Linked DNA regions of Homo sapiens. The protein of the gene in region 2 interacts with the protein of the main gene of each other region in a pairwise test. Each region holds a gene or a part of one and is shown on either strand. Other genes may lie near its edges.

Region 1 (8,470 bases), on a different chromosome or scaffold from region 2:
CTTCATGGATGTTGTCAGTTGGTCTATATTTTCTTTCTTTTTTTTTTTTTTGAGATGGAGTTTCACTTTTGTTGCCCAGGCTGGAGTGCAATGGCGCGATCTTGGCTCACTGCAACCTCCGCCTCCTGGGTTCAAGCAATTCTCCTGCCTCAGCCTCCCAAGTAGCTGGGATCACAGGCGTGCACCACCACGCCCAGCTAATTTTGTATTTTTAGTAGAGATGGTTTCTCCGTGTTGGCCAGGCTGGTCTCGAACTCCTGACCTCACGTGATCCACCCGCTTCGGCCTCCCAAAGTGCTGGGATTACAGGCGTGAGCCGCCACGCCCGGCCTTTGTCCATATTTTCTACATGGCTTCTGTAAACAGCTGACTAGGAGTCTGTGTGAATATCTTCATAGGTTCTGCTGTGACACTACTTGCTCGTGAGCATCTCCAGGTGTAAACAGCATCAGCTTCCCCCATTTTCCTTTAAAATCGCACATGTGGACGGACACCACGGGGACCCTGGACCCTGGGGAGCCCCGTCCTCACCCTTCTCACCAGGATGGCTGCTTGGTAGAGAGTGAGTTTGCAAAGTTGGCATTTGTTTAGTACAGAAGTTATCAGGTGTTCTGGCTTTAGAATCCCTTTATATATATATATATATACATATATTTAAGTGACAGGGTCTCACTCTGTTGCCCAGGCTGGAATGTGGTGGTACAATCAAAGTTCCCTGTAGCCTCGGCCTCCTGGGCTCATGGGATCTTCCCGTCTCAGCGTCTTAAAGCGCCGGGACCACAGGTGTGCACCACTGCCACCGGCTCTCAAGATTGCCACGCAGGGAGTTGCAGTGGGGGAAGGGGTTCCTGGGACTTTGAACGCTCCACCTCCCTCCTCTCCACAGTCCCCCAACCCCACCTCTCTAACGGGGTGGACGGCCGCCTCTTTCCATCCTTCGCTTGGCGCAGGGTGGGGAGAGTGACAGGTCTCCTTCCCTCATCTCGGCAGCTGCCATTTCATCGCTTACATAACGTGGGAGAAACATCCACCCACCCCCAGGCCTGTGTGAACATCACCACGGGGCCTTCTCCACTCTTCAGTTTTGTTAGTTACTTGATGTGCAGGGCTTTTTGTTGTAACTAGTGGGGGACGTGTGGTGGGGTGGGCTTCTGCCATCTCATTCAGGACCAGAACTTCAGTTTTCATCCCTATCTGTTCCCCCACCCCTTTGGAGATGGGGTCTCACTCTGTCACCCAGGCTGGAGAGCGGTGGTGCCATCACGGCTCACTGCAGCCTCCACCTCCTGCAGCCTCCACCTCTTGGGCTCAAGTGATCCTCCTGCCTCGGCCTCCCAAGCTCCTGGGACTACAGGCGTGTGCCACTGTGCTTGGCAGGGTCCATTCTTTTCCTCACACTTTATTTATTGAAGAGCCCAGGCCGTTTACCCTGCAGAGTCGGAATCTGTACAGGAGGGGCAGCCACACGAGTTCCCCGGTTTACTCTGAACTTAGGTGGCTTGAGGGCCCCAGTTAGACTGCGGCCACCGTTTGCCGGGCTCCAGATGGGACGTCCTTTCTATCAGAAGGCTCACAGTATCTCCTTTCCCGTTTCTTCCCATGTGAACATTGTTGCTGCTGAACACCTGAATATGTTAATCACTGGGGGCTTGCAAGATGGCAGTGTGCTAATTCCATCATCTAGTCAGTTAGCAGGAATAACTTAGGACCACGCCCTGCACCATATCAGCTATGTGGTGATCCCATTCACACAGGAAAGGTGGGACAAATGCTGGGGGTGGGCCGGGTGTGCTGTCTCACACCTGTCATCCCAGCACTTTGGGAGGCCCAGGCAGGCGGATCACGAGGTCAGAGATTGAGACCATCCTGGCCAACACGGTGAAACCCCGTCTCTACTAAAAATACAAAAAAATTAGCCAGGTGTGGTGGTGCATGCTTGTAATCCCAGCTACTTGGGAGGCTGAGGCAGGAGAATCACTTGAACCCAGGAGGCGGAGGTTGCAGTGAGCCGAGATCGCACCATTGCACTCCAGCCTGGCGACAGAGCGAGACTCCGTCTCAAAAATCAATCAGTCAATCAAGTGTCATCACTGAATGTTTGTGTGTGAACGTGGGGATTGGTCCTGCCCCATGCTCCCTCCTGAATCTCACTCCTGACCTCAGTTGCTGCACCTTGAGGTGTTTTCATGTGGGCTCTTGTGTCCTGACCCCGGCGGTTGTGGCCTCTTTGCTGTCTGGGAGTCAGGATTTTTCACACTCATGTCCTGCTCCAGACCTGGAATCAGCCAAGTCTCCAAGAAGCCCTGCTTTCTTTTCCTGCAAGACGGTATTTCAAGACCCGCCATGCGGCAGCGGGTTGGTCATGGTTACTGGGTTGGTCGTTGTTACTGGGTGTTTTCGTGGAGATACAGCCATACGCACAGGTGTGTTCACAAATGTTAATTCTAAAGGTCAAACACCCGGCCAGGCATAAGGGCTCAGCGGTAATCCCAGCACTTTGGGAGACCAAGACTGGTGGATCACCTGAGGTCAGGAGTTTAAGACCAGCCTGAGCAACAGGGTGAAACCCCATCTCTACTAAAAATGCGAAAATTAGCCGGGCATGGTGGCGCACACCTATAGTCCCAGCTAGTCGGGAGACAGACACGAGAATTGCTTGAACCTGGGACATGGAGGTTGCAGTGAGCAGAGATGGCGCTGCTGCACCCCTGCCTGGGTGACAGAGTGACACCCTGTCTCAAAAATGAATAGATAAATAAAGATAAAACACCTGCTCCTCTTGGTGTCTCCAGTTTGGATTTGGCCTGTGTAGCCTCTTCCTTCGCCTGTTGGTGGATTTGGCCTGCACGGATTCTGTGTGGCCTCTTCCTTCCCCTGTTGGTGGATTTGGCCTGCACGGATTCTGTGTGGCCTCTTCCTTCCCCTGTTGGTGGATTTGGCCTGCACGGATTCTGTGTGGCCTCTTCCTTCCCCTGTTGGTGGATTTGGCCTGCACGGATTCTGTGTGGCCTCTTCCTTCCCCTGTTGGTGGATTTGGCCTGCACGGATTCTGTGTGGCCTCTTCCTTCCCCTGTTGGTGGATTTGGCCTGCACGGATTCTGTGTGGCCTCTTCCTTCCCATGTTGGTGGATTTGGCCTGCATGGATTCTGTGTGGCCTCTTCCTTTCCATGTTGGTGTCCTTTTTTCCATGCCAGGAATCCTGGTTCTCAAGGGCGGGGTTGTTGGCACGAGCGTGATGCAGACTGCCTTTGCTGCCTTTCTCTTGCCCAGGGCTGAACATGGAGCTGGAAGACATTGCAAAGCTGAAGAGTAAGTGTTGCCCTCCCCGCCTCCTTGCAGCTGGGTGGGGCCTCCTCCTTGCGAGGAGGTGGGTGACACCTCCTCGACCCACAGTGATCCTGCTGCGCCTGGAGGGGGCCATCGATGCTGTTGAGCTGCCTGGAGACGACAGCGGTGTCACCAAGCCAGGGAGGTGAGAGGCGGGGAGCCAGCCCCTTCACTGCAGGCCCAGCCTAGAGCTAGAAACGGGCCATGGTGCAGTCCTGGGCTGTCACATCACGAGTGAGGCCTGTTTTCAGGCCTGTTTTCCCTTTTTGAGACCTGGGAGGAGCACCTGCTTTGCATGATCTGGTTGCTGAGATGTTGAGAGGAGCAGCACACACTCCCACGGGACAGCACACAGCCCCCCACGGAACGGCACACACACCCATGGAACAGCACACACACTCCCACGAACAGCACACACACTCCCACGAACAGCACACACACTCCCACGGAACAGCACACACACCCACGGAACGGCACACACACCCACGGAACAGCACACACACTCCCACGGAACAGCACACACACCCACGGAACGGCACACACTCCCACGGAACGGCACACTCTCCCACGGAACAGCACACTCTCCCACGGAACAGCACACACACTCCCACGGAACAGCACACACACCCACGGAACGGCACACACTCCCACGGAACAGCAGACTCTCCCACGGAACAGCACACACACTCCCACAGACAGCACACACACACCCACGGAACAGCACACTCTCCCACGCGGGGCCGCTGGGTTTCCTGCAGTTTCTCCTCCTCCAGGCCTTTCCCTGGACCCTGGTCCAGTCCGTCATTTGAGCACAGGTGCCTGTTAGAACGAGACCTTCTTGTTAGGACGATGAGTGTCCCAGCCACCACCTCTTTTGGACTCCGGGAGGCCTGGAACGTTCTGAACGCTCCGTGGGGCTCCAGTCTTCTCCGCAGCCAGGGCAGCAGGGTTTGCTGTCTGTCCTGCAGGCAGATGAGGAGTCAGGGCTGGGGCCTGTGTGGGGGCTCTCCTGAGCGCACAGCCGCCGAGGTGGAGCGTGTTCTGCCTGAGCGCCGACCTGGTCGGGGGAATCCCAGTTGCTTCCAGGTGGAGCCACTGTCCTCAGCGTAATGCTCAAGGCTCTGGCCTGGCTCCTCGGCCACCCTGCACCCTCAGGGTCCCCTCCTGTAGCTTCTGCTGCCCCATCACTGTCACTCTCCAAAGCTTTGGGGACTCTGCCCAGAGCCACCGCCTCCCAGAAGCCCCTGACAACCTCTTGACGACCCCCTAGTGACCCCATCCCTCCCCTCTGACGGCGGCCCCTGCTCTGAGGCGGCTTCTTTTCCTCGGTGCTGTTCTCGTGCTGGCCAGGCCTCCTCTCCCCACCTGGAGGCTCCTGAGGGCGGAGGCCTCTCACCTCCAATGCTGGCGTCCCCTGGAGGGCTGAATTTGTTTCCGAGGGAAGGAAACTTCCACAGTTGTTGCCTTCAGTTCCAAAGCTGCAGCCTGATTTCCCCCTCCAGGCTCGAGCCTGTTTTCTTCTCGGCAGCTACATCTTTGACCAGTGTCGTCCCCCCTCAGGCCCGAGCCTGCCTTCTTCTCCTCAGTTCCCAAAGCTGCAGTCTGGTCCCCCCGCCAGGCTCGAGCCTGCCTTCTTCTCCTCGGCAGCTACATCTTTGAGCTGTTTGCTGAAGCCCAGATCACGTTTCAGACCAAGGGCTGCATCCTGGACTCGCTGGACCAGATCATCCAGCACCTGGCAGGACGTGAGTGCTGGCACGGGGTCTTTGGTGCGGGCAAATGTGGCGTAGGGGGTGCAGCAGGCCTCCATCTTGGCAGTCAGGGCTCCCCTGGCCGTCACCTGGCCGTCAGCAGGAACAGGCCCACAGAACCTCATCTTCTGATCGGGGCGTGGAGGCGTTAGTGCCACTTGCCAGCTGCCGTAGAGCCTGTCCCAGTTCTGCAGCTGGCGGCTTCGTCCTACAGCCTCATCCCATTATTCTGCTTTTGAGAAAGAGCAGCCCAAGGCCCTAGCTGGCTTGTGGGGCCTCTGGCTTCTCCACACCACCCCGAGTTCTGCTTCTCAGAGTTGTGGGGTCCAGAGGCTTTGCCCAGAGGCGGTGTCCCCATGGGCTGCTCTGGTTTGAGACGCCGGGCCCAGCGGGGTCTCTCCTCTGCTGCGCTCCCGGGTGCTGGGGAGGGTGGCTTTTGCTGCTTCAACCCTTAGGCGACCATAGAGCCTCTTTTCAAGTCCCACTGACCCCCTTGGAGACTCTGTCCCTGCCTGGCTTCTCTCCTGGCTGCTGGGAAGAGCAGGCGAACTGCCCGCCCTGAATGGATGCTGCGCTCCACCCTGGGCCCCCCATTGGGCAGGAGATGGAGCTTGGCAGTCGGGCTGAGCGGGCTCATGCTGGAAGGGCCGGGGCTGGGGTCGGGGCCTCCCCTGCCTGCAGTGTGGGTGTCAGCGCCCTGCTGCCCTCCAGGTGCTGGAGTGTTCACCAACACGGCCGGACTGCAGAAGCTGGCGGACATTATCCAGGTGGGGCCTGCTCCTCTGTGGCATCTCCTTCCCTGATGGAAGCCGGGCGGGTGCCTTCTCCTGCTGTATTAGTTAACTGATTCTAGACTTGGGGATGGGAGAAAGGCCCCTACACCACCTGTTTCTGATTGGCAAACTCTCGGCTCCTTTCCAGTGCCCTAAACCCACACTGGGCCTCCTGCAGGGATGGGGGAGGACGAGGTCTGGTGGCACATGCCCAGGGTGATGCTGGTGAGGGAGGACGCAAAGGACAGTGGGGGCCGGGGAGCCGCTCCTGCCCTGTCCGGGCCCTCAGGCCAGGGGGGACCCACTGCTGGCAGCCCCAGCAGCCCCAGCTGCACGCAGATGAAGAGCTCTGGACACACGCGGCTTCCTGAACAGCTTCTCCAGGGACAGACAAATGGGGACCCTGCAGGTTCCCGGCAGGGGTGTCCCTGGGAGCCCATGATTGGGGGTGCGACCCTGGCCCCCTTCTCATTGGCCCCGTCCTGTCCTGCAATGCCCGTCCCATGTGAGGTCTGCTTCTGGCTCCATGCCTATGGCAGCACCTGCTTTCCCTGGCGTAGAGGTGCTTGTCCGGTTTGTGGAGGGCACGCCCCATTTTGGGTGCTCTGGGCACGTTGCCTCTCCGGGGCCTCGGTGGCTTTTTTAGAAGCAGACTCAGAAGTCCCTGACTGGGGAAGCCAAGGCACAGGTGGCTGTGTGGAGCCCTGTGAGGCCTCCTCTGTGCTGCCCACGCTGTACCTGCTGGCCACACGAGATCATGGCAGGGTTAGGCAGGGCTGCCCAGCGCTATGACAGCTTCATGAGTGTCCATCTGGCCTGTGGGGTGCTTGAGCTGGGGGAGGCCGCAGAAGAACCCTGGGATGCATGGCTGGCCTGTGCATGCTGCTGGGCATGGAGCTGCAGATCCCGGAACAAGCAGGCACTGCCTTCTCCTTCACAGACGCAGCTCTGAGCGGGGGCGAGACCTGGGCAGGGACCAGGTGGGGTGGGCACAGGGTGGTGGGGCCCAGGCTCAGCCCTCCCTCCACTGTGGCCGTCTCTGTGGCCAGTGACGCCACAGCCTGTGTCTTCTCTGTGCGGTAGCTGGGGCTGGAAGGACAGCACTGCCTTGTCCTCCCAACTCCTCCCCAAAGGCACGGTGGGCATCCCAGGCCCAGACCCCTCTGTCTGTGGCTCCTGCCTGCCAAGGGCTGCTGTGCTGTCCCGCATGGAGTGTGGTTGGCTCTTCAAGCAGGAGGCCGTGCACCTATCAGGCGGACCTGCTTCCATGTCCCTGATGGGTCACTGCAAAGCACCTCCAGCACATGGCCAGGCGAGGTAGCCCTGCAGCCCAGGGCCTGGAGGGCAGGTGTGAGCTGGCCCGGGCCTGTCCCTCCCTGGAATACAGCTTCCCAGGCTCCCACTTATGGAGAAGTCTCCTCCACACTATGGAACTGAATCCTAGAATGTGGCTTCTGAGGTTCCTACACTCGAACTGAATCCTGGAATGCGGCTTCCAAGGCTTCCAGCTATGGAGAAGACTCCACACTCTGGAACCGAATCCTGGAACGCGGCCTCCCAGGCCCCCAGCTATGGAGAAGACTCCACACTCTGGAACCGAATCCTGGAACGCGGCCTCCCAGGCCCCCAGCTATGGAGAAGACTCCACACTCTGGAACCGGATCCTGGAACGCGGCCTCCCAGCCTCCCACTTAAGGAGAAGTCTCCACACTCTGGAACCGGATCCTGGAACGTGGCCTCCCAGGCCCCCACTTAAGGAGAAGACTCCACACTCTGGAACCGAATCCTGCACACTCCATCGGTTTGGAATTTCCTTTGGCTGCTGCTCTAAGTAGCCGCTGGTGGATGACTCAGCTTCTGCCAGCCCTCGGGTGCCTGGAGGATGAGGGACTGCACACAGTGCTCACCCGCGTTGGCTCCTGAGCCCCTGCAGGTGTGGGCGGTGCCCATAGGGCTGGTGCTGGGTTGGGCCTGCAGCCCTGAGTCACAGGTGACCCTGGGGGCAGAGTGGGGCCAGTGGCCCCAGGAAGAGGATGTGGGATGCACAGCTCAGCTGGAGGCGAACTCCAGGCAGGGTCAGGCCGTGTGCTCGGAAGTCAGGGCTTAGCTGGAGGCAAACTCTGGGCAGTGCTGGCCCGTGTTGGGGAACCAGTTGCCCCTGGGCCCCCGTGAGACTGCTGGGTCCTCATCCCTCTCTGCCTGAGGCCGGAGCTGCCCTGGGCTGAGGCACAGGGGGATTTGTGGTGGTGTTTTTTTGAGAAAGGGTCTCGCTTTGTCACCCCGGCTGGAGTGCAGGGGCTTGATCACAGCTCACTGCAGCCTCAACCTCCTGGGCCCAAGTGATCCTCTTGCCTCAGCCACCCGAGGAGCTGTGAACACAGGTGTGCACCACCGCACTCAGCTAATTTTTAAAATTTTTTTGTAGAGATGAGGTCTTGCCATGTTTCCCAGGCTGGTCTCAAACTCCTGGGCTCAGGCAGTCTGCCCGCCTTGGCCTCCCAAAGTGCTGGGATTACAGGCAAGAGCTTCCATGCCTGCCCAGCAGAAGGCTTTTCGAAGGAAGCTGTTTCCTGAGGCAGACTCAGCCCTGCTCATGGCAGCCACCAGCGTGGGGGTGA
Region 2 (4,069 bases):
GGCAAAAATGATATTTTCCCTTTCTAACAGCTTCTCAGGGAGCTCTGCACTTAAAGTGATTTGCATTTCATTGCTAAAGGGAAAATGTGTAGCCTTTATGTCAGCATTTCCTCTCTCCTTTTTAGGGCAGCAGCTGGATGAATTCCTACAGCTAGCTGTGGACAAAGTGGAGGCTGGCCTGGGCTCTGGGCCCTGTCGTAGTCAGGCCTTCACTCTTCTTCTCTGGGTAAGGAGTTGGAGTGGAGTCTGGTTAGCCAGAGAGGCAATTATGTCTGGTTAAATAAAATGTCCCTGTTTGACCCTAAACCATAAACATCTATGTCTCAGGGTTCTCGGGTTTGAGTGTCATTCCCCAATTGCTCTCTCTGTCTCCAATTACAGGTAACAAAGGCCCTAGTGCTCAGATACCATCCTCTCAGCTCCTGCCTTACAGCCCGGGTACGTCCTTTCTGGAGACAGAAGAACCCAGGACCTAAACAAACTTTCTGGTTGCTCCTATTCCTCCCAAGGACTTCCATCCTCCCCTGTGTGTTTTTTGTTTTCTTTTCTTTTTTCTTTTTGGAGACAGGGTCTTACTCTGTCACCCAGGCTGGAGTACAGTAGTGCAATCACAGCTCACTCCAGCCTCAACCTCCGTAGGCTCAAGTGATCCTCCCACTTCAGCCTCGCAAGTAGCTGGGACTACAGGGGCACCCCACCACACCCAACTAATGTTTGTATTTTTTGTAAGAACTGGGTTTGGCCATGTTGCCCAGACTCCTAGACTCAAGCAGTCCACCTGCCTTGGCCTCCCAAAGTGCTAGGATTACAGGCATGAGCCACCACACCCGGCCCCATCCTTATCTTTGGCACTTAAGATTCTTCTTCCCTGATGTACCTCAAAGGCTCTTTTTTCTCCAGCTCATGGGCCTCCTGAGTGACCCAGAATTAGGTCCAGCAGCAGCTGATGGCTTCTCTCTGCTCATGTCTGACTGCACTGATGTGCTGACTCGTGCTGGCCATGCCGAAGTGCGGATCATGTTCCGCCAGCGGTTCTTCACAGATAATGTGCCTGCTTTGGTCCAGGGCTTCCATGCTGCTCCCCAAGGTGAGGAGTCTGAAAGAAGGTCCCCACATATACACATCTCTCCTTTGCTTGGCCACATTCCCTAAGATAATTTAGGGCCCGCTTGCTTCTTTAGAGCTATATTGTGGTCTGTGCCTAGAAGACTAAACTTCTAGATTCTTGTCCCACTTCTTCCTTTCATGGGCGTATCTTGCTTATTCTGAGCGTGAAGGGCTCTTTCACCCGTTTGTAGGCTGATGTCTCAGCCTCACCACAGATTGGAATTGATTTCTCAAGCTATATATCTAAGTCCAATTTCTCCCCTAAGCCTTTCCATTTTTTACAGATGTGAAGCCAAACTACTTGAAGGGTCTTTCTCATGTACTTAACAGGCTGCCCAAGCCTGTACTCTTGCCAGAGCTGCCCACGGTAAGTCCCACAGGCAGAGCTTCTAAGCAAAGGACAAAGCTATTCTTCCCCAGATGGGGCTAGAAAGGGGAGGGAACAAGAACCAGGATCTTCATGATGTGGCCATCCCCTACCTTGCCCATTGCCCCTTAGCTTCTTTCCTTGCTGCTGGAGGCCCTGTCCTGCCCTGACTGTGTGGTGCAGCTCTCCACCCTCAGCTGCCTTCAGCCTCTTCTACTGGAAGCACCCCAAGTCATGAGTCTTCACGTGGACACCCTCGTCACCAAGTTTCTGAACCTCAGCTCTAGCCCTTCCATGGTGCGTTGAGCCCCAGCAACTCTTAGGCACCAGCATCTCTCCCTGGGCATGCTCTCACCTCCTTGTGGTTGTGTTCCAGGCTGTCCGGATCGCCGCACTGCAGTGCATGCATGCTCTCACTCGCCTGCCCACCCCTGTGGTAAGTACCTCAGGTGTCCTTCCCTGGCCTGGGAACATCTCAAGAGACACATAAGTACCTTTTTGCCTTAGTCAGGTGGGCTTGGCCACCCTGGTGTGTAATTGAGATCTGAATTACAAGGTACAGATCTTGTAATTCTGGGCCCAAGGATTCTTTTCCTTGGGCCCAGAAGGTAACAGAAAGGCCATCCTGCCACTTAACATCCCTTGGAATCACTAAAGATGTTTTGCTTTCCTCAGAATATTAGTTGTACAGAATCAAAAAAGCGGTACTTTCAGTTGCCTTGGATGAGCAAGGTTGATTATATCCTCTGACTCCACAGCTGCTGCCGTACAAACCACAGGTGATTCGGGCCTTAGCCAAACCCCTGGATGACAAGAAGAGACTGGTGCGCAAGGAAGCAGTGTCAGCCAGAGGGGAGTGGTGAGTTTCTAGGTCGTGGGGAGAGATGGGACCAAGATGAGCCTCATCACTAATGCTGCCAACTTTCTTTTTGCCTACAGGTTTCTGTTGGGGAGCCCTGGCAGCTGAGCCCTCAGTCCTGGCCTAGACTGTTCTGACAATCTAACCTGGGATTACTAACTGTTGAGCCATCTTCCCCAAAGCAGGGAAACCACTGGTCTCTGACTGCCTTTCCCACAGACACAGCACAAATGCTAGGCCTCTGTTGCATGGCTGTACAAAGAACATAAGAGTCCATATTTCTAGTGGATTTGTAAAATAAGTGTGTGTGAGACACTTGCGTTTGAAGAAAGATCTAGGGTCCTGGGTCTCTTGCATTTATATGTCAGAAAAGGGGCGATATGCTGCTGAGGGGTGAGTGCATATGAGTGTGGCCCTGAGGACCAGGGCTGGCAGATGTTGTCTACCTGCTGAAGAATAAAGATTTCTTTTGGTAATGGGGCTGTCAGATATTTCCCCCACCCCACATATGCCTCATATAACCAGAGGCATCACTGGAATAACAATGACAGGGATTGGCCAAAAATTTTTCAGGGTAACCAGGACAGTAGCACATGCCTGTAACCCCAACACTTCAGGAGGCTGAGGCAGGCGGATCACTTGAGGCTAGGAGTTTGAGACTAGCCCTGGCAGTATAGCAAGAACCCATCTCTACAAATAATTAAAAAAAAAAAAAAATTAAGCTGGGCATGGTGGCTGACGCCTGTAATCCCAGCATTTTGGGAGGCCGAGGCGCATGGATCAGTGGAGGTCAGGAGTTCAAGACCAGACTGGCCAACATGGTGAAACCCCATCTCCACTAAAAATACAAAAATTAGCCAGGTGTGGTGGCATACGCCTTTAATCACAGCTACTTGGGAGGCTGAGACACAAGAATCACTTGAGCCGGGCGCGGTGGCTCACGCCTGTAAAGCTTGTAATCCCAGCACTTTGGGAGGCCGAGGCGGATGGATCACAAGGTCATGACATCGAGACCTCCTGGCTAACACAGTGAAACCCCGTCTCTACTAAAAATACAAAAATTAGCCGGGTGTGGTGGCGGGCGCCTGTAGTCCCAGCTACTCGGGAGGCTGAGGCAGGAGAATGGCGTGAACCCGGGAGGCGGAGCTTGCAGTGAGCCGAGATCACACCACTGCACTCCAGCCTGGGTGATATAGAGCGAGACTCCGTCTCAAAAAAAAAAAAAAAAAAAAATCACTTGAAACTGGGAGGCGGAGGTTGCAGTGAGTCAAGATCGCGCCACTGCATTACAGCCTGAGAGACAGAGTGAGACTCCATCTCCAAAAAAAAAAAAAATGTAGGAAGCATGACCAGAACACCTACTCACTAGGTCTTGACCCTGACTTTCCCCTTCCCTGCCCTATCGTGAGGCAGAGAGTGAGAAGCTACATATCTTTAAAAATCGAATACCTTTATTTGTGCTCCCTTAAGCAGCATGTGAGAAGTGGCAGTGACCTCAGCAGCAGGCCTGGTATCTTTGCCCTGTTGAGAAGCCAAGATCTCAGCTGTACTAGTCAGGTGTTTTTTCAGACAGCAAGTAGAAGAGGTGGTGGCCAACTCCAGTGCTGTATCCTGGAGGAGGTCCGGGTCAGCACTGGGCAAGGTAGGTAGCTAGCTGCCTGACCCCTAGTCTGGGGTTGGAACTTCTGTTTGCCTGAGTAAAGGGATGTCAGTCCTAAGATTTCTCCACATTGTGT
Region 3 (8,806 bases), on a different chromosome or scaffold from region 2:
AGGGCTGTGGTGGCTGAAGGGCAGCCTCCCAAAAGATACAACCAGGCCAGGCCCAGTGGCTCACGCTGTAATCCCAGCACTGGGGGGCCGAGGTGGAAGGATCACTTGAGCCCAGGAGTTCGAGACCAGCCTGGCCAACATGGTGAAACCCTGTCTTTTTTTTTTTTTGAGACAGAGTCTCACTCTGTTGCCCAGGCTGCAGTGCAGTGGTGCGATCTCAGCTCATTGCAAGCTCCACCTCCCAGGTTCACGCCATTCTCCTGCCTCAGCCTCCTGAGTAGCTGGGACTACAGGCACCCGCCACCACGCCCAGCTAATTTTTTCTATTTTCAGTAGAGACGGGGTTTCACCGCGTTAGCCAGGATGGTCTCGATCTCCTGACCTTGTGATCCGCCGGCCTCGGCCTCCCAAAGTGCTGGGATTACAGGTGTGAGCCAACGCGCCCAGCCCCGTCTTTAATAAAAATATAAAAATTAGCTAGGCCTGGTGATGGACTCCTGTAGTACCAGCTGCTCAGGAGGCTGAGGCAGGAGAATCGCTTGAATCCTGCAGGCAGAGGCTGCAGTGAGCCAAGATCCTGCCACTGTACTCCAGTCTGGGCAACAAGAGCGAAACTCCGTCTCAAAAAAAAATAATAATAAAGGCCGGGTGCAGTGGCTCACGCCTGTAATCCCCGCACTTTGGAAGGCTGAGGTGGGCAAATCATGAGGTCAGGAGATCAAGACCATCCTGGCTAACATGGTGAAACCCCATTTCTACTGAAAATACAAAAATTAGCCAGGCGTGGTGGCAGGAGCCTGTAATCCCAACTACTTGGGAGGCTGAGGCAGAATTGCTTGAACCCGGAAGGCAGAGGTTGCAGTGAGCCAAGCTTGTGCCACTGCATTCCAGCCTGGGTGACAGAGTGAGACTCTGTCTCAAAAAATAATAATAATACTCATGCCTATAATCCCAGCACTTTGGGAGGCCGAGGCCGGCAGATCACGAGGTCAGAAGATTGTGCCCATCTTGGCTAACACATGGTGAAACCCCGTCTCTAGTAAAAATACAAAAAAATTAGCCACGTGTGGTGGTGGGCGCCTGTAGTACCAGCTACTCGGGAAGCTGAGAGAGGAGAATGGCGTGAACCCAGGAGGTGGGGCTTGCAGTGAGCTGAGATGGTGCCACTGCACTCCAGCCTGGGCAACAGAGTGAGACTCCATCTCAAAAGAATAATAATAATAATAATAACAGTAAAAATAGCCAGGCATGGTGGCGCACACCTGTAGTCCCAGCTACTTGGGAGGCTGAGGCCGGAGGATCTCTTGAGCCCGGGAGGCTGAGGCTATAGTGAGCTGTGATCACACCACTGCACTCCAGCCTGGGAAGAGAGCAAGACACTGTATCAAGAAAAAAAAAATGTGCTGGAGCGACACAGTCACAGACCAAGGACAACTGGAGCCCCTGGAAGCTGGAGAAAGCAGGAAGGGTCCTCCCTGCAGCCTCCAGAGGGAGCACGGTGAATGACACCATGACCTCAGATGTGTGGCCTCCACAGCTAGTAGGGGACGCATCTCTGTTGCTTTCACCCCGGCGTGTTGTCATTTGTTACGGGAGCCTCAGGAGACAGGCACAGGATGATCCCTTCCGAGGGTGAAGCTCTGACACCAACCCAGGAGAGGGGACCAGGTGGCTCTACCAGTATCATGACCCCGGACCAGCAAGAGGATGCTAGCATGCAACCTCCCACCCAACCACCGGGGGCGGCTGTAGGCAAAGGGGGGTCCTGTGGGTGCCCGCAGAGCAGACGCCTCCACCAGGCATCCCTTCCAGCCCAGGGAAAGGGGGTGCCCATACACAGTCACAGCATCACAGCAACCTGGGGTCCGGCCGGCCTCGCCCTATGTCCCCAGCCGGCCCTCGTGTCCCCCCGTGCCCTCCCTGGGTTCCCTGGCCCTGGCTCAGGGACTAGCACGTGGGAAGTGCATGGTAAATACTCGCTAATGACGATGATTAAACAATCTGCAAAACAGAAAGCAGGGACCCCAGAGGCACGAGGTTGGCACTAGAGCTCAGGGGCTCCAGGGAAATGTCTGTGAGTTAATGAAGAACCCCGCCCCAGCTCCACCCGGAGCAGCAAGAGGAAGCTCACCTAAAGACCCTTCCCTTATCCCAACAGCCCTCCTCACTCTCACATTTTCTGTAAACCCACTCCACTGCATTTCAGTGGCACTAAGTTTCTTTCGTATTTTTTTTCTTTTTTTTTTTTTTTGAGACGGGGTCTCGCCCTGTCGCCCAGGCTGGAGTGCAGTGGTGCCGTCTCGGCTCACTGCAAGCTCCGCCTCCCGGGTTCACACCATTCTCCTGCCTCAGCCTCCCCAGTAGCTGGGACTACAGGCGCCCGCCACTACACCCGGATAATTTTTTTTTTTTTATATTTTTAGTAGAGACAGGGTTTCACTGTGTTAGCCAGGATGGTCTTGATCTCCTGACCTCATGATCTGCCGGCCTCGGCCTCCCGAAGTGCTGGGATTACAGGCGTGAGCCATCGCACCCGGCCTCGTGTTTTGTTTTTCTTTCTTCTTTTAGATGGAGTCTCGCTCAGTCGCCCAGGCTGGAGTACAATGGTGCGATCTCAGCTCACTGCAACCTCTGCCTCCTGGGTTCAAGTGATTCTCCTGTCTCAAACTCCCGAGTAGCTAGGACTACAGGCACGTGCCACCACGCCTGATAAGTTTTTTTTTTTTGAGACAGTGTCTTAGTCTGTTGCTCAGGCTAGAGTGCAATGGTGCTATCTCAGCTCACCACAACCTCCACCTCCCAGGCTCAAGCGATTCTCCTGCCTCACCCTCCTTAGTACCTGGGATTCCAGGCACAAACCACCATGCTGGGCTAATTTTTATATTTTTAGTAGAGATGGGGTTTCACCATGTTGGCCAGGGTGGTCTTGAACTCCTGACCTCAAATGATCCACCTGCCTCAGCCCCACAATGTGCTGGGATTACAGGCGTGAGCCACCGCGCCCAGCCTAATTTTTGTATTTTTAGTAGACGGGGTTTCACCATGTTGGCTGGGCTGGTCACAAACTCCTGACCTCGGGTGATCCACCCACCTGGGCCTCCCAAAGCGCTGGTGAGCCACCGCACCCGACCCCCTGTTCTATTTTTAATAGAAGATATTTCAGCCCCTAATCTCCAAGCTCGGCCAGGTATTGCCAGGTGGCGGGATGGCTGGGACCTGGAAGCTCACCTGGCCCAGGTGCTGGGGAAAGCTCCTCCGTGCAGCAGCAGAAGAAAGTCCTGTCTGGCCGAGAGGAGCAGCTGCAGGTGATGGAGAAGGCCACACAGGCTGGTGGCCCAAACCCCACAGGCAGGTGCAGGAGTGCCCAGGCCGCATCCAGGTGGGGACATGTGGTCAGAATCAGGGCCTAGAACCCTGGGGAGGGTGCGGCGCAGGCTGGGACCTAGGATGTTGCCACTGTGAGATCTCCATGGGCTGAGCCTGCTTGGGCCGGAAAGATGCCAGCCTCGATCCAGGAGTTTCCTGAAAAGTCCCCATAAAACTGGCCATTAGACATGTAACTGGCCATATGATGCCAGATATACATGTAACTGGCCAGGCGCGGTGGCTCATGCCCGTAATCCCAGCGCTTTGGGAGGCTGAGGTGGGTGGATCACTAGGTAAGGAGTTCAAGACCAGCCTGGCCAACATGGTGAAACCCAGTCTCTAATTAAAACTACAAACATTAGCCGGATGCAATGGCAGGTGACTGTAATCCCAGCTACTCGGGAAGCTGAGGCAGGAGAATTGCTTGAACCCAGGCGGCAGAGGTTGCAGTGAGCCGAGATCGCGCCACTGCACTCCAGCCTGGGCAACAGAGTGAGACTCTGTCTCAAAAAAGAAAAAAAAAAAAGTGAGTCGGGGTCGGGCGCGGTGGCTCACGCCTGTAATCCCAGCACTTTGGGAAGCTGAGGCGGGCAGATCACGAGGTCAGGAGTTCGAGACCATCCTGGCTAACACGGTGAAACCCCGTCTCTACTAAAAATACAAAAAATTAGCCGGGCGTGGTGGTGGGCGCCTGTAGTCCCAGCTACTCGGGAGGCTGAGGCAGGAGAATCGCTTGAACCCAGGAGGTAGAGCTTGCAGTGAGCCGAGATCGCGCCATTGCACTCCAGCCTGGACGACAGAGCGAGACTCTGTCTCAAAAAAAGAAAAAAACGAAAAGCGAGTCGGCCCACAGGGTCCTGTTTCAGGGTCTCCCAGGGGCATGGACTTTTCCAGACTGGTCTCCAAGATAACAGAAAAAGGGGCTGGAGGCCCTGGGAGCGGCTCCCCAGGAAGGGGAGACCTCGTGCCTATCCATGCTTTCTTCCCTGCCTGAATTCCCCAACACGAGCTGAGCGCCTCCTGTGTGCCAGGCGCGTTCCGGGTTCTTGGGTTGCATCCGGGAGCACCTGGTCCGCAGGTACGCAGAGGATGAGGAAATGGACGGAGCCAGATCCCCTCCGCTTCCTTGTGAAGGCGGAGAGACTCCGGGGCCGGAGCTGCGGCGCTGGCCCGACCAACCCCTGCGCCCCCTGCACCCCAACCCGGGGCCTGGGGCGCGCGGGAGGTGGACGAAGCGGTAGGTCCCGGGTTCCCGCGAGGTGGGCGGGGAGCCGCAGCGCCGGGGCTCGTCAGCAGAGGGCGCCGGCCCCGGGACGAGGTGCGCATGCGTCCTGGGGGCGCTTTCCGGCAGCGTGGCGGAACCAGCCACTTCGTTTCGCGCCGTTTAGCGACACCTGCGCGCGGCGGCAGTGCGGCCGTCATGGCGTCGCCCTTCAGCGGGGCGCTGCAGCTGACGGACCTGGATGACTTCATCGGGCCGTCTCAGGTGGGCCGGCCTGGGCGGGCGGGGTCGAGGCTGCGCTCGGTGCCCTGTCGCGCGGAGGGAAATTGCTCTGCGCCCCACTTCCTCCCCTGAGGAATGAGATCCGAATCCCGGGAGCCCGGTCTGGGCCGTCAGGGACTCTATCGACCCGGGCGCGGGGCCTCAGACACTGAGGCCCGCTTCTTACCAACAAGGAAACTGAGGCCAGGGAGGGCGGCGCCCCCCAACCCGCTCCTGTGCCCCATGGTGTCCGGGCGGGCTGCGTGGGAGGGTCCCGTGGTCGCGGGCTCGCGCCGGCCTGCCCAACCCAGAGGAGGCAGCAGAGGCGGCTCCCACACATCCCTAACCCTAACCCGACCCCTGGGTCGCAGCTGGAGGGCGGCGGGGCCCGGGCCGGGGCCTCTTCCCCTTCCCCTGCGCAGGACGCCTTGTCAGGCCTCAGGACCCCCAAGCCACAGCCTTTGCATCTGCATAAACGGGTGCGGTGGGGACCCCACCTCATTTGAGGGCAGTAGGGGCGGCCCGCTAGACGCCCCGCAGTGGCTCCTCAGTAGAGCTGTCCTTAACGTCGCCCTGGTGGGCCGGACAGCTACCCTTGAACCCGGGAGGCTGCAGGCGCCCTTTTCTGGGTGCACCTGCCTGTCCATGTCCAACAGCCCCGCGGGGCCAGAGCTGAGCAGGGCGAGAGGCGGGCTGCTGGGAGCGCTTCCGGCAGGGATGAGCTGGGAGGCGGCTTTCTGGGCTGCCAGGGTTCTCAAGGAGAAGAGAGAGAAATCCACTTGTTTCCCGGGCACTGAGCAGGAGGTGGTCTCCAAACAGATCCAAGCACACGTCCTCTCGATGGGCAGTGCAACTCTGGTCTCTGTGGTGGTCACGCCCCCTGTTCACGTGAAGGGTGAAGGTCAGTGTTGGTGGTGTCTCCGCAGGTGGGTAGTTTGCAGGCGCTGTTAGCACTGGCCTTCCTGCACACTGGGAACTTCAGTGCCGCAGGATGTTGGGAACCCGATCCCTGGGTGAGAGCAGTGGGGCAGGAAGAAGACGGTGGGACCAGCCTCAGTCCCTGAGTGCATGGCTCCTGGCAGAGCCTTCAGGCTGTGCGGCTGGGCAGCCATCCTTGAGGCCTGGCCTCCCAGGGAACCTCCGCCCACTCACAGGGGCTGATTTGGGGTCTCTTCCTGCTCTAGGAGTGCATCAAGCCTGTCAAAGTGGAAAAAAGGGCGGGAAGTGGCGTGGCCAAGATTCGCATTGAAGATGACGGGAGCTACTTCCAAATTAACCAAGTAAGGCACAGGAGGCTGCTCCACCATCTCTCCTGCCCGGCTGATCCGAAACACTTTTCTCTGCTTCCTCCCGTCACAGAGCGGTGACCCCGAGACACTCCAGGTCTCACCAGTCTTTTCCCACTGGTCGAATTCACCTGCCATCTGGGAGGCTGGGGGTCAGGGTGCCTGGGGCAGGTGAATGAGCAGCACCCAGGCCAAACAGCTTGATCTGCTCAGCAGAGGGGCTATTTGCAGAGATGGTGGATCCTGTCTGCGTCTGCCTGTTCCCCCTAGTTCTAACCATGTAAGATTTTCTAATTCAGACCCCTCGTTCTTTTGTTTGTTTGTTTGTTTGTTTGTTTGATACAGAGTCTCCCTCGATGGCCCAGGCTGGAGTGCAGTGGCATGATCTCGGCTCACTGCAAGCTCTGCCTCCCAGGTTCACACCATTCTCCTGCCTCAGCCTCCCGAGTAGCTGGGACTACAGGCGGCCACCACCACGCCCAGCTAATGTTTTTTGTATTTTTAGTAGAGACGGGGTTTCACCGTGTTAGCCAGGATGGTCTCAATCTCCTGACCTCGTGATCCACCCGCCTTGGCCTCCCAAAGTGCTGGGATTACAGGCGTGAGCCACCGCGCCCAGCCCAGACCCCTCATTCTTAAAGAATAGTACTTCCTCTCTAAGTGATAAGATCCTGATGAAACTGTTAAAATTCAGGCTGGGCGCGGTGGCTCACGCTTGTAATCCCAGCACTTTGGGAGGCCAGGGTAGGGGGGGCGGATCACCTGAGGTCAGGAGTTCGAGACCAGCCTGGCCAACCCCCATCTGTACTAAAAATACAAAAATTAGTTGGGTGTCGTGGCGCATGCCTGTAATCCCAGCTACTCAAGAGGGTGAGGCAGGAGAATCACTTGAACCTGGGAGATAGGGACTGCAGTGAACCAAGATTGCTCCACTGCACTCCAGCCTGAGAGACAGAGACTCCATCTCAAAAAAATAAAGAAACTGGGCCTGGCGCGGTGGCTCAGGCCTGTAATCCCAGCACTTTGGGAGGCCGAGGCGGGTGGATCACGAGGTCAGGAGATCGAGACCATCCTGGCTAACACGGTGAAACCCCGTCTCTACTAAAAATACAAAAAAAAAAATTAGCTGGGCGTGGTGGCCGGCGCCTGTAGTCCCAGCTACCGGGAAGCTGAGGCAGGAGAATGGCGTGAGCCTGGGAGGCGGAGTTTGCAGTGAGCCGAGATCGCACCACTGCACTCTAGCCTGGGTGACAGAGCGAGACTCCATCTCAAAAAAAAAAAAAAAAAGAAACTATTAAAATTCACCTGTCTGCCATTTGGACTCTAAAAAACGTCTGCCTGATCTCATGAACCACTGCACCAAGAGACGATTTCCAGCCCAGCACTGGGGGCCCAGCCCACAAACGAAGGGAACCCCTGGAAGGTGCTGGGGTGCTGGTAGGCGTGGCTGTCGGTGCAGTGGCAGTTGGTTTGGAGGAGCCTGTCAGCCTCTGCCCAGCACCCTGTGGCAGGCAAGGCTTTGTGCCTTGGGGCAGAACCAACGTAGGAATACAAGGCGAGCTCAGATTGTGATACACAGGCCTAGCAGAGAGCTGGGCTGCGAGGGGTTCCCACACAGTTCCCACCCAGTCGCCTTACTCCTCTGGCTGTATTCCGGGCCACTGCAGCACCCCTGGCCCTGCTCAAACCATTCCTGCCTTTGCAGGAGAAGTTGGGGGAGCTCGAGCTGGGTGCGTTTTGCATGTAAGAAAAGTTGCTGAGGCATGTCCCGGAGGCCCCCGACTGGAACACCTTGTTCCTGCATCTGTTTGGCGAGTCTGACGGTTGTTTCTGCCCCGCCCACCGGAGGCCAGGCTCCCAGGCTTCCTCCCTCTGCTCTCCTCTTCCTGTGCCTTCGTCCTTTCCTCCTTTGTCCTCAGCTTTCCCGCCTCCTCCTTTCAGAGCCCACCTTCGGCATTTTCCTGCCCTACAGCCCTGTGAGTGTGCACCGGGGCCAGCACCCCGTCCAGGGCCCCATGGGTGAGTGGGGTGGCTGCTGCTTTGCTGAGATACCAGTGGCAAGCCTTAGTCCTGTGATTCGGATGCACTAACCAAGTGGTACCAAGAAGCAGACTTGACGGCATTATGAAACTGTAGAGCGTGCGTGTGCATTTTTGTAATACATACCTAATTTTTAAAAATTCAGCGGCACACAAGCCCAGCCAGCAGCCATGTTGGTTGTCGGTTATGAGCTGGACTCCACTATCCTCTGTCTCCATGTCCTCGTGCAGAGGGGGCCCCTGTGCACCGGGTTCTTCTCCCTTGTAGGACGGCGGGACCCGGAGGCTGGAGAAGGCCAAGGTCTCGCTAAACGACTGCCTGGCGTGCAGCGGCTGCATCACCTCCGCAGAGACCGTGCTTATCACCCAGCAGAGCCACGAGGAGCTGAAGAAGGTTCTAGATGCTAACAAGGTAAGCAGTGGTCGGCCTGGTGACTCTGCTTTAACCTGAAATCCATCCCAGCAGCCGACAACGCGTTTTGCCAAGGGCAGCTCGTGTGGTGCCGACGTCCGTCGTGCGGGTGGCGCCTGCCTTTTTGAGGCTTGGAATCTTGGTGATTTGTCAGTGGGCTCCAGTGGTGAACGTGTCAGGCCCCAAACTTCAGGTTCTAAATATACATCAAAATGACACC

What was found. Proteins that work in one complex are often made in the same cells at the same time.
Region 1: the proteins of MMS19 (region 2) and RTEL1 interact in binary tests that used the Homo sapiens proteins (3 or more experiments, as listed by UniProt).
Region 3: the proteins of MMS19 (region 2) and CIAO3 interact in binary tests that used the Homo sapiens proteins (3 or more experiments, as listed by UniProt).

Annotation. Positions count from the first base shown.
Region 1 is NC_000020.11:63,674,874-63,683,343, forward strand, and holds part of RTEL1 (regulator of telomere elongation helicase 1), read left to right. Parts: intron 1-2,770; exon of another isoform or gene 2,771-3,271; coding exon 3,272-3,310; exon of another isoform or gene 3,311-3,394; coding exon 3,395-3,473; exon of another isoform or gene 3,474-3,502; intron 3,503-4,975; coding exon 4,976-5,073; intron 5,074-5,790; coding exon 5,791-5,846; intron 5,847-8,470. UniProt on the Homo sapiens protein: A probable ATP-dependent DNA helicase implicated in telomere-length regulation, DNA repair and the maintenance of genomic stability. Acts as an anti-recombinase to counteract toxic recombination and limit crossover during meiosis.
Region 2 is NC_000010.11:97,457,064-97,461,132, reverse strand, and holds the end of MMS19 (MMS19 nucleotide excision repair protein homolog), read left to right. Parts: intron 1-125; coding exon 126-226; exon of another isoform or gene 227-313; intron 314-381; coding exon 382-438; intron 439-900; coding exon 901-1,087; intron 1,088-1,391; coding exon 1,392-1,474; intron 1,475-1,606; coding exon 1,607-1,771; intron 1,772-1,850; coding exon 1,851-1,910; intron 1,911-2,232; coding exon 2,233-2,333; intron 2,334-2,413; coding exon 2,414-2,441; 3' UTR 2,442-2,809; downstream 2,810-4,069. UniProt on the Homo sapiens protein: Key component of the cytosolic iron-sulfur protein assembly (CIA) complex, a multiprotein complex that mediates the incorporation of iron-sulfur cluster into apoproteins specifically involved in DNA metabolism and genomic integrity.
Region 3 is NC_000016.10:736,966-745,771, reverse strand, and holds the start of CIAO3 (cytosolic iron-sulfur assembly component 3), read left to right. Parts: upstream 1-4,774; 5' UTR 4,775-4,786; coding exon 4,787-4,852; intron 4,853-5,668; exon of another isoform or gene 5,669-5,750; intron 5,751-6,033; coding exon 6,034-6,129; intron 6,130-8,442; coding exon 8,443-8,586; intron 8,587-8,806.